Linked DNA regions of Homo sapiens: region 2 is linked to region 1. Evidence: fine-mapped expression QTL. A gene starts in region 1. The other region holds a variant in brackets. All regions are shown on one strand. Distances are between the middles of the regions. Region 1 holds the start of LGALS3BP (galectin 3 binding protein). Region 2 overlaps C1QTNF1 (C1q and TNF related 1).

Region 1 (5,367 bases):
TGCCCATTCACCCTTCAGCCCAACCTGGGCTGTGTGGCAGGCGGGGTCCCTCTCTTGCAGAGCCCACTATGATCCCAGTAAGTGTGACGTGTGCTGTGGATGCCCCCGCGGGGGCCCCTCACCTGGTCTGCAGTGTGGTCCTGGAAGGATGTGTAACACTTGGCTAGATGAAGCGTGGGCTGGGGGCACCCCCTGGCAGTAAGGGCAGCAAGAATTGGTGACTAGAGGCAAGTGAGCTCATCTCAAAAAACCAGGCCCCGGGCAAGGCTGCCACACGGGCATGGGCGGGGAGATGGAGGAGGCCACAGGCGTGGGCCCAGGTCGGGAGGCCGGGTGAGCCTGGTTAAGATCTCGGCCTTAAGCTTCAGGCAACAGACCCCTGCAGGGACTGTCCCAGAGGGTCTCAGCAGGCAGAGACGAGGCTGCAGCCTGGAGAGTGGATGGGAGGGGACTCGTCAGGAGAGGGCACAGAATCCGGGCGAGGGGTGACAGAGATAAGTGGCAGGGAGATATATCGGGGCTCCGTGGTGTTCCGATGGGGAAGATAGATGAAAAGGGTCAGGGCTGCAGCCCAGGGTGGGCCAGGCTGGGGGAAGAACAGGGAGGAAATGCTGAAGTATCCCCAAGACACTGACACTCAGGCCAGGACTGGGGAGGTCCGGGTCTCCACCTTCTGGCCTGGTGTTCTTGCCTCCGTGTAATTTCCACGCTTTTGTCTTCGTCTGCCTCCCTCCCCCACACCCTGCCAATGGAGAGACAGTTATGGTTTCTCTGGCTCGGTAAGAATCCTGTGATACCTGACACTGTCCCCTCAGTTCAGCAAGCCTGGGGCAGGCCTCTGGGTGGCACTGCTGTGGGCACCGGCTGGGAGTCTGGGCCTGGTGACCTTGAGGCTGCTTGGAGGGGGCCTGGTGGACGGCTGCAATGGCATCCCCAGAGCTTGTCGGAAATGCAGTCATGGCTGGCCTTGCCCTAGCCCCTCTGCATGGGAGTCTGCATGAACAAGCGCCCTGGGAGCTGGGTGCACTGGCTGGTGAGCAGCTTTGCTCTGGGACTCGTGCTCGCTGGCACTGTGCAGCCACCCCTTGTCGGGGCTCCCCGGGCACCACTGGAGGCCTTACCGTGACCCTGAGAACCACCTTAGTTACACCTCACCTTACAAGTGAATGAGCTGACACCCAGAGAGGCAAATGGGCTCCACATCCACAGTCAGTGAGCCACAGGCAGGGGGTCTGCTCGGGGGAGCCCACCTCTCCTCCCTGTGTCAATGTCAGTAGATGGCTAAAGGGGCCAGGGTGTGACCGCCTGTCCTGTGTGCTGGGGACTGTGCTGGTTTTAGCACTGAAGTTTCCCTGTGTCCTGGGAAACCCCTCAGTCCCAGGCACGCCGGTATGGGTGGACGCCCTCTCCACTTCTGCCCCCAGCCACTTCACTCTGCTGCAGCCACTAGGTTTGTCCGTCCTGGGAGAGTAACTCAGGGCCTTGGAAAAATGGCCAACTGGCCAGGCGCGATGGCTCACGCCTGTAATCCCAGAACTTTGGGAGGCTGGGGCAGGTGGATCACTTGAGGTCAGGAGTTCAAGACCAGCCTGGCCAACATGGTGAAACCCCGGCTCTACTAAAAATACAAAATAATAATAATAATAAGCTGGGCATGGTGGTGTGCACCTGTAGTCCCAGCTACTCAGGAGGCTGAGGCAACAGAATTGCTTGAATCCGGCAGGCAGAGATTGTAGTGAGCCGCTGCACTCCAGCCTGGGTGACAGAGCAAGACTCTGTCTCAAAAAAAAAAGGGGGGGGGGCAACGAAGCACCTGGCAGGTGGCGTCGCTGCCCTTTGTGTGGCAGCGGCTATTTTTGCCTGATTCCTTCATACAGTTGAGACCCGGCTGCCTGTGTTGGCCCCTTCGTGCAAATCAGAAAAAAAGGTGCTCTTCCTTGGAGTGGGTGCAGGCCTAGGCCAAATGCACAGGTCTGAGAGAGGGCCAAGCTGAATTCTAACCCACTTGCCCTTTGGCTGGTATCCTTGTGCAGTGAGTAATCTGCCCAACTGTACACAGAGGCCCTGTGGGCCTGGGAGCAGCAATGATTGTTGCTGGACTCAGGAGCCCTGGATCCCCAGCTCCAGGCCTATGTGCAAACAGGGAGGCATGACCCCCACTTGCCTGTGTAGAGAGAGGGGTGCCCTGGCCGGGCGCGGTGGCTCACACCTGTAATCCCTACACTTTGGGAGGCCGAGGCGGGTGGATCACCAGAGGTCAGGAGTTTGAGACCAGCCTGGCCAAGATGGCGAAACCCTGTCTCTACTAAAAATACAAAAATTAGCTGGGCGTGGTGGCACGCGCCTGTAATCCCAGCTACTTGGGAGGCCGAGGCAGGAGAATCGTTTGAACCCAGGAGGCAGAGGCTGCAGTGAGCGGACATTGCATCACTGTACTCCAGCCTGGGTGACAGAGTGAGACCCTGTCTCAAAAAAAATAAAAATAAAAAAGAGAGAGAGACTGAGAGGGGTGCCCACCTGAGAGCTAGAGGCAGGAGCTTACCTGGCTGCGGTAGCTGCAACGGCCGTGTGGAGCCTCCTCGCTTCCAGCCACAGGATCCCTCTGCAGACTGGTCCTTTGACCCAGAAGCCTCTCCCAGTATGGAGCGTGGTCAGGCTGATCCCAGGAAATGCTTCAGAAAAGAGTCTACTTTCGATTTCCAGAAACCACCTGACATAGATGTCTTCCGGGATTGGCTGCTGCTGATACTCCCCAGGGCCCCTCTCTTTTGTCTCAGCTCTGCCTGTGGCTATCAGTGCCAGGCTGGCAGAGGCCCAAGGTGGGAGTCTGGCTGGAGCAAGGCCTGCAAGAGGACTAACAGCCACACTCAGTTGGAAAGGCCGCCAGGCTGGTCAGGGGCTGGCGTTTGGTGGACGGGAGGGGAAGAAGCAGAGGCTCTGGGCCCAGACAGTCTGCACCTGGTGGTGTGGCTGTGGACTCTGACAGAGCGCTCCGAGTCTTTTCCTGGGTCTAGCACGTTGCTGGCTGGGTGAACACCACACAGGGGGCTGCTTATGTGCAAATCCACCCTCTCTGTGCTCTTGGCATGCTGACCACACAGAGGGCCTGTGCCCCACAAGGTTGCATGGCACTGTCCCCTGTCCCCAGGGGAGGGAGGCACTGAGAACCAGGTATGCAGCTGGCCAGTGGAGGAGCTGGACCCTGCTCCAACACCTGACCCCAGAGCCTGTGCTCGCCACTGCTGGACCTGTGGCCACTCTCCTACTGTCTCCCCCTCAGCGGGGCGGGGGACAGAGCCTCTCTGGGTGACATAATGGCTCTGTCCAGCTCATACCCATTCCCTTTCCTCCCACTGAAAGCCGGCACCTCAACTGTCCCTTGGGGAGCACCCCCTCCCATTCCCGGCTGTGTGGTTCCCAGAGGGCCCCCAGCTCTTGGCCTTCAACCACCCAAGGCCTGGCTGTCTGAGCCCTGCGGGGGCCCCGGGCCACACTGCTGGTTTCAGGGTGGGGCTGTGAGCCCAGCCAGCCGGTGAGAGCCAGCTTCTGACTGAGAGGATGTGGGCCCAGGCTGCTGGGGCCGGTGGGGCAGAGCAGAGGGAAGCAGGCATCCTCCGGCCTGAGCTCCTGGGTCCAGCTGGCCTAATCCATGGTCAAGGCTGGGCTTCACCGCTCAGTGAGGCAATCAGCAGCCGCTCTTGTTTCTGTCACTTGCACCCCATGGTTCTGGATGAGCCTTGGGATGTGCCCAGGCCTCTGACCAGTGGTTCTCAGCCTGGGCTGGACAGAAGAATCATCAGGGAGTTTTACAAACTCCTAATGCCTAGACCCAGGAAGTCACCATCTCTGGGAGTAGGGGACAGGCAGGGGCATTTAAAAGCCCCCAGGCAGTCCCACTGGGTGGAAGGCCCTGGTTCCCTGGCAGCTTAGAGTCCGAGACAGCCAGCCCAGAGGTCAGACATTCAATGACTATTTCCTTCAAGGTGTGAGGTTTTAGGCAGCTGCACGGTTTGCCTAATCCCCTCCAGAGGAACTGTGAAGATCCAGGGGCAGGTGCAGCTGGAAATAGAACTGGCTGTGGGGAGTTTAAAAAAATCTCATCTGGATTAAGGGCCTGAGTGCACAGAAACCCCAGCATCATCCCTTCTCAGCAGTGCTAATGACTTCTGCCCAAGTGGCCAGGGAAGGACAGGAGTGCAGAGGACGGGAGGGCATCTCTGGGAAGTGCTGGGAAAGGTTTTAAAACTCAGGTGCCGAATCTTTAGCCCCAGAGTCCGGGAAAGTCCTAAGCCATCCAGGCAGGTAAAATGGAAAACCCAGAGGCCTCCTCGTGGAATCGGAGCACCAACATCTGCTCCCCTGGGGCTCGCAAGGCCTTTCCGGTGTGCGATGACCATGGGGTGGAGGGAAGCGCTGACAGGGGACAGGCAGGGGAAGGGGCAGCGGCTCGGCTCTGAGAAGACAGCTGGGTGAAAGCCTCAGATTCGTGTGGACAGAACTGCTGTCATCAGGAAGCCGCTCCCAAGACATGGTAGGGAAAGTGCGGGGCATTTCAGAGATGAGAATGGTTAACTGGCCTGTAAGGTCATCTTTTGTGCCTCTACCCCAAACCTCTCCGCAAATTGAGGAACGCTCCCTATAATAGCTAATATGGATTTCGCCAGGCATTACTATAAGCCTTGCCACAAATGAATGCATTTAATACTTCCAGCCATGATGGGAAGCAGCTGCTCTTATATTCCCTGTTACAGATGAGAAAACAGAGGCTCAGTGAGGCGACGTAATCGGCTAAAGTTGTGCAGCTGGTAGGGGAAGAACTGGGGTTTCAAACCCATCCTTTCCTTCTTTTTAAAAATTGGCTTTCTTGGCATATAATTTACGTGCAAAGTTTTGGCAAATGTGTAGCGATGGTATCATGACAACAATCATTACCTAGGGCGTTTCAATCACCCCTAAGAATTCTCTTATGCCCCTCTGCAGCCACCCCTCCCCCCAGCCCCTTCCCAGCAACCACCTCTCAGCTTCTGCCACTGCTGGTTGCCTTTCCTAGAATTCCCTCTATTTTGTCTTCTTTTTTAAGACACAGTCTCCCTCCATTGCCCAGGCTGGAGTGCAGTGGAACAATCTCGGCTCACTGCAATCTCTGCCTCTCAGGTCCAAGTGATTCTCCTGCCTCGGCCTCCCGAGTAGCTGGGATTACAGGTGCGCCCACCACCACGCCCAGCTAATTTTTGTATTTTTAGTAGAGAAGGGGTTTCTCCACATTGGCCAGGCTGGCCTCGAACCCCTGAACTCAGGTGATCCGCCTGCCTCTGCCTCCCAAAGTGCTGGGATTACAGGCATGAGGCACCACTCCTGGACCCTAGA
Region 2 (5,367 bases), 61 kb after region 1:
ACTGGCCAAGATGTGCTCAGGGCACTTCCCTGGAACTGCCTAACACATTCTTCCAGATAACCTTGCTGGGACACAGCCTCCCTACTGTAGGGGGATTTTTGCTGGAAATCACTAACAGTGATCTGGAGCCAAGTTTGGTTAGATGTTGGGCAATACTGTCTTTGCCCAAAAGTGACTAAAATGATCATCATGTTATGACGCTGGCTTTGCTGTGGGATTTGGTAAAATGCTTCTTAAGATCTTTTCAGGAAGGAAAGATTTCAACCTGGGTTTGCTCTGACTCCGAACAGCAGGCTTTTGAGGAGAGCCACCACCGCCAAAGTGGCCTTGTCCCTACCAGCCTGAGCCTGGGGCTCTCTGCTGGGGTTTCCCAGCCCCACCCCACCCCAGTGACAGCATCGTTCCTAACCCAGCTGCATCCTGGACCCCGTCTCTTCTGACCAAGGTGTGGAAAATCCCTTTGCTAGACTAGAAAGAGATAGACCAACATAAAAACAAATGCTGGTGCTTAGCTAGGGGCAATTTTGCCCCTGAGGAACAGGCATATTACCATGTTTGGAGACATTTTTTGTTGTCATAACTAGAGGTAGTGGTGCTAATGGCATCTGGTGGGGACAGTCCAGGGTTACTGCTAAGCATCCTACAGCACACAGGCTAGCCCCCCACCACAGGGGATTATCTAGGCCCAAACCTCAATGGTGCCAGGGTTGGCTGGCGCGGTGGCAAACGCCCGTAATCCCAGCACTTTGGGAGGCCGAGGCAGATGGATCACCTGAGGTCAGGAGTAGTTCAAGACCAGCCTGGCCAACATGGCGAAACCCTGTCTCTACTAAAAATACAAAAATTAGCCGGGTGTGGAGGCACACGCATATAATCTCAGTTACTAGGGAGACTGAGGCAGGAGAATAACTTGAACCTGGGAGGCGGAGGTTGCAGTGAGCCAAGATCGCGCCACTTCACTCCAGCCTGGGTGACAGAGCGAGACTCTGTCTCAAAATAAAATAAAACAAAAAAACCCAGCAATCCTTCAATGGTGCCAGGGTTGAGAAACCACAGAGTAGAATAATCCAAGGTAGCTTTTTAATGCGTTTTGTAGTTACTTTCCAACCTCTCTTAAATAAATATGTGTGTGTGTGTGTATATATATATATATGTAAATATGTATATATGTATATATATGTAAACATGTGTATGTGTATATATAAAATTTGGGATTCAGGAAAAAAATATTTAAAGAAAGGAAAATCTCTTTTCCTTTTAACTGGTACAAGTTTGCCACTTAAAAGGAAAAAACAGAATAATTATTAAGGCACCAAGGAGAAACAGAGGAAATACAGAAATGGAGAAATAAACAAATTTAGAGAATTCAGTCTGACAAATATTTGCTGAGCACCAGTGATTCAGGGTGCTGCAGGATGCTTGGCTAGGGGACGTCCCAGCCCTGGAGGAGGTCACCCACGGTCTGCTGAGTAGACTCTCATAGGCTAGACAAACTCTCTGCAGTAGGAGACAATAGGAAAAATAAAATTATGGCGCCCACCTATAATCCCAGTACTTTGGGAGGCCAAGGCAGGTGAATTGCTTGAGCTCAGGAGTTTGAGACGAGCCGGGGAAACACGGTGAAACCGTGTCTTTACGAAAAAACAACAAAAAAATTTAGCTGGGCGTGGTGGCGCATGCCTGTAGTCCCAGCTGCTTGAGAGGTTGAGGTGGGCAGATGGCCTGAGCCGGGAGGGTTGAGGCTACAGGGAGGCAGAGTGAGACCCTGTATCAAAAAAGAAAACTAAGACCGAGGATGGAGAATTTTTCCCAGTTGAGGGGCCTGGGAAGGCTTCAGGAAGACTATGAGACCTTGAGTTGGGTGTTGAAGACAAGGCGGGCAGGATTTTATTGTCATCTGTTGTCAGCCTGTCTGAGTCCAAATGCAGCCCCCCTGCTCAAAAATCAGTCTTGGCCCGGCGTGGAGGATCACGCCTGTAATCCCAGCACTTTGGGAGGCTGAGGTGGGCAGATCACTTGAGCCCGGGAGTTTGAGACCAGCCTGGGCAACATGGTGAAAATTTGTCTCTACAAAAAAAAAAAAAAAAAAAAAAAATTAGCTGGGTGTGGTAGTGCATACCTGCAGTCCCTTCTACTTGTGAGGCTGAGGTGGGAGGATGGCTCAAGTCCAGGAGGCAGAGGCTGCAGTGAGCCGAGATTGCACCACTGCACTCACTCACAGAGTGAGATCCTGTCAAAAAAAAAAATCAGAATTTTAGGCTAATTAGCTTCTCCAAGTCTCTGTTTTCTCATTTACATATCTGCTACAGTCATGAATGTATATTGTCTCCCTAGAGGATTGTGGGGCCATCCGTGATGGGATAAAAATTATTAATGAGGAAATGTTCTCAAACCTAACTAGACGGATAGCTGGAGAGAGAACTTAGATGTGTATTTTATAAATTACCATGTGCACATACACCCTTTTTTTGGCAAGTGGTGGGAGGTATCAGAGATTCTGGGTGGGGGCTGTGGCCTAAGCAGCTCCTTGGTCATTGGGACGGTCTCTGGGCCCTGACGCATGGGAGGGACAGCTGGCTGGTAGGACACTTGGAGGTGGGGGCTCCAGCTAAGCCACTGCAGAGATGGGGCGTGGGCCATGCAAGGTGGTGAAGACTGGGTGTAGGTATGTGTGACAGGGGAGGAGAGAGGTTCGGGGGGGCCAGCCTTGCTCTCCTCACTGTCACCTCGGAGGCTCTATCGGGAGAGCCCTGGACTCCAGATCTTCCCCTGCAATGTTGACTTGGCGTGAGGGCTCTG[C/T]GGGGAGCCCTTCAGACTTCACTCAAGAGCCCACTAAAGTCCTGGGCCGTGGCTCACGCCTGGAATCCCAGCACCTCGGGAGGCCGAGGTGGGTGGATCACTTGAGGTCAGAAGTTCCAGACCAGCCTGGCCAACGTGGTGAAACCCCGTCTCTACTAAAAATACAAAAATTAGCTGGGCGTGGTGGCGCATGCTTGTAATCCCAGCTGCTTGGGAGGCTGAGGCAGGAGAATCACTTGAACCTAGGAGGCGGAGTGAGCCGAGATCACACTGCTGCACTCCAGCCTGGGTGACAGAGCAAGACTCCATCTCAAAAAAAAAAAAAAAAAGCCCGCTACAGACATCCCCCGCAGAGGCTCCAAAGCCCCCGAGCGACGGTGTGTGTGGAAGAAATTCCCGGCTTCCCAAGATGAGTAAGACGTCGCGGTCATCTTGGTGTGTAATATGGGCAGAGAAAGAAATCTGTCAGGATTTTAACTTTCCTTAGACATAAGAGGAGTTAGAGGAGAAAGAGTCTGGCCCAGGGCCTTTGGAGATGAGCCCTTGCTTTCACTGTTTGCCTCTCAAGAAAGAGCTGGAGTCCACGCCGGCCTGGCAGCCAGGAGTGAGGGACGCTTCTCACCCACCTTCTCACTGGGCGGCTGTGTGTTGAATGAGGTGTTCCCACGGGGCCTGCGACATTTCGAGTTTTACATTTTGGTGAACAAAGAGGGGTTAGAGTTGACCACAGTCGCTGTGCCCCTCGGTGGGGAGGTTTTCGGCCCACCTGAAACGGCTGGGCCTGCGACTCCTGATGCCAGATTCCTGGGCGAGGGGAGCAAGCCGCTCACAGGGTGGCAGGTGGGCGTTCGCCTAATGTGGGCCCAAGTGCCGCCCCTCGCGGGCTCCCTGGACTCCCCACCTCCGTGAGCACCCCTTTCTAGAAGGACTGTCCCAATACTGGATGGAGGGGGTCCTGCCCCAAGCTTTTGCCAAAAGCTCTGGGAGTGAGACGTGGGGTTGGCTTCCTGGAAGGATGACTGCTCTGTGGGGCTGGGCTTGGCACATCCCTAAAGTAGATGCCAAGGACACCTGCTGATGCGCCGCCTGGTGGCCAGAAAGCAGCTTGCAGCCACCTTCCTACCCACCTACCCACCGGTGAAGGACCTGGTCATTGAGCCAGCTTTGCTTTGAGTTAAGGGATGATGATCATTCAAAGCTTGCTTGGGATTTTTCTTACTGTCCTAAGAGGGGTGGTATACAATTGTCTGTGGGGCCAGCGGCTGATGGACTCTCCTTCCCGAGAGGCTGGGTGGGCAGAGACAGCACCTTGCTCAGCAACCCCTCAACACCAGCCTGACTGGCTGAGGCTCTGGGGGCAGAGTGTGTGCGCACATGTGAAGGTGTGTGTACATGTGAGCGCATGTGTGCATGAGTGGATGTGCATGCATGTGAATGTGTTGAGAGTATGCGGGCGTGCACGTGAGTGTGCATGTGATGTGGGTATATGTGTGCATGTTAATGTGTGCACGTGTGTTGAAAGTGTGCATGTGTGGATTGCATGTATGCGAATGTGCATGTGTGTGGATTGCATGTATATGAATGTGTGTGCATGTGTGGGTTGCATGTGTGTGTGGGTTGCATGTGTGTATGTGTGTGCATGTGTGCATGGATTGCATGTATGTGAATGTGTGTGCATGTTGGATTGCATGTGAGTGCATGTGATGGTATATGTGTGTGAGTGCATGTAAAAGTGTGCATGTGTGTGGATTGCATGTGTGTGTGAATCTGTGTGCATGTGATATGGGTATATGTATGCATGTGTGTGCATGTGTGTTGAGAGTGTGCATGTGATTTGGGTATGTGTGCATGTGAGTTGTGCATGTGTGTTGAGTGCATGTGAGCATGTGGATTGCATGTGTGAGTGCATGTGTGTGGACTGTGTATGTGCATGTATGTGCATGTGAGTGTGAGTGTATGTGTGTTGACTGTGTGCATGTGAGCGTGTGGATTCCATGTGTGTTAAGAGTGTGCATATGGGTGCGTGGATTGCATGAGTGTGCATGTGATGTGGGTATATGTATGCATGTGTGTAGGTTTCATTGTTGAGACTGTGCATGTGTATTGTGTGTACATGTGTGTGGATTACATGTGTGTGGATTGCATGTGTGTTGGGTGCATGTGAATGTGTGGGTTGCATGTGAGTGTATGTGACTGTGTGTGCATGTGTGGATTGCATGTGTGTTGAGTGTGTGCATGTGTGGGGGTTGCATGTATGTGAATGTGTGTGCATGTGCGTGTGTGCACGTGAGTGCGTCGTGAGTGCGTGTATGCATGCATGGGTGTGTGAGAGTGATTGTCCTCCCAGAAGCTGTGTAACTGCAGCATTTCCCAGTGGCGTGAGGCTGGGGAAGCACCTCCGATTTCCAGGCTGTTTCTCTCCCCAATTTTCAGGCTGTTTCTCTGTGCAGCTCCTTCCTAACTCGGTGCCTTCCCTGTGTGTTTCTTTCCCACCAGGGCCCGGCAGGAAGATGGGCTCCCGTGGACAGGGACTCTTGCTGGCGTACTGCCTGCTCCTTGCCTTTGCCT

The links. PIP is the estimated chance that this variant, and not a neighbour inherited with it, causes the effect. A credible set is the group of variants that fine-mapping cannot tell apart.
Region 2: its variant is the best candidate, but not a certain one, in a credible set for the expression of LGALS3BP in whole blood (INTERVAL, PIP 0.57).

The regions. Positions count from the first base shown.
Region 1 is chr17:78,977,282-78,982,648 of GRCh38, forward strand. LGALS3BP (galectin 3 binding protein) reads right to left here and starts at 2,642. Exons shown (of 6, transcript NM_005567.4): 1 at 2,543-2,642. RefSeq lists an enhancer at 2,676-3,668.
Region 2 is chr17:79,038,660-79,044,026 of GRCh38, forward strand. It overlaps C1QTNF1 (C1q and TNF related 1), which reads left to right. Exons shown (of 4, transcript NM_030968.5): 2 at 5,296-5,367. The coding sequence starts at 5,310. Among named protein-coding and RNA genes, the nearest start is that of C1QTNF1-AS1, 14 kb to the left of the region's middle. RefSeq lists an enhancer at 5,306-5,367. The variant C/T (reference allele first, on the strand shown) is at 2,800.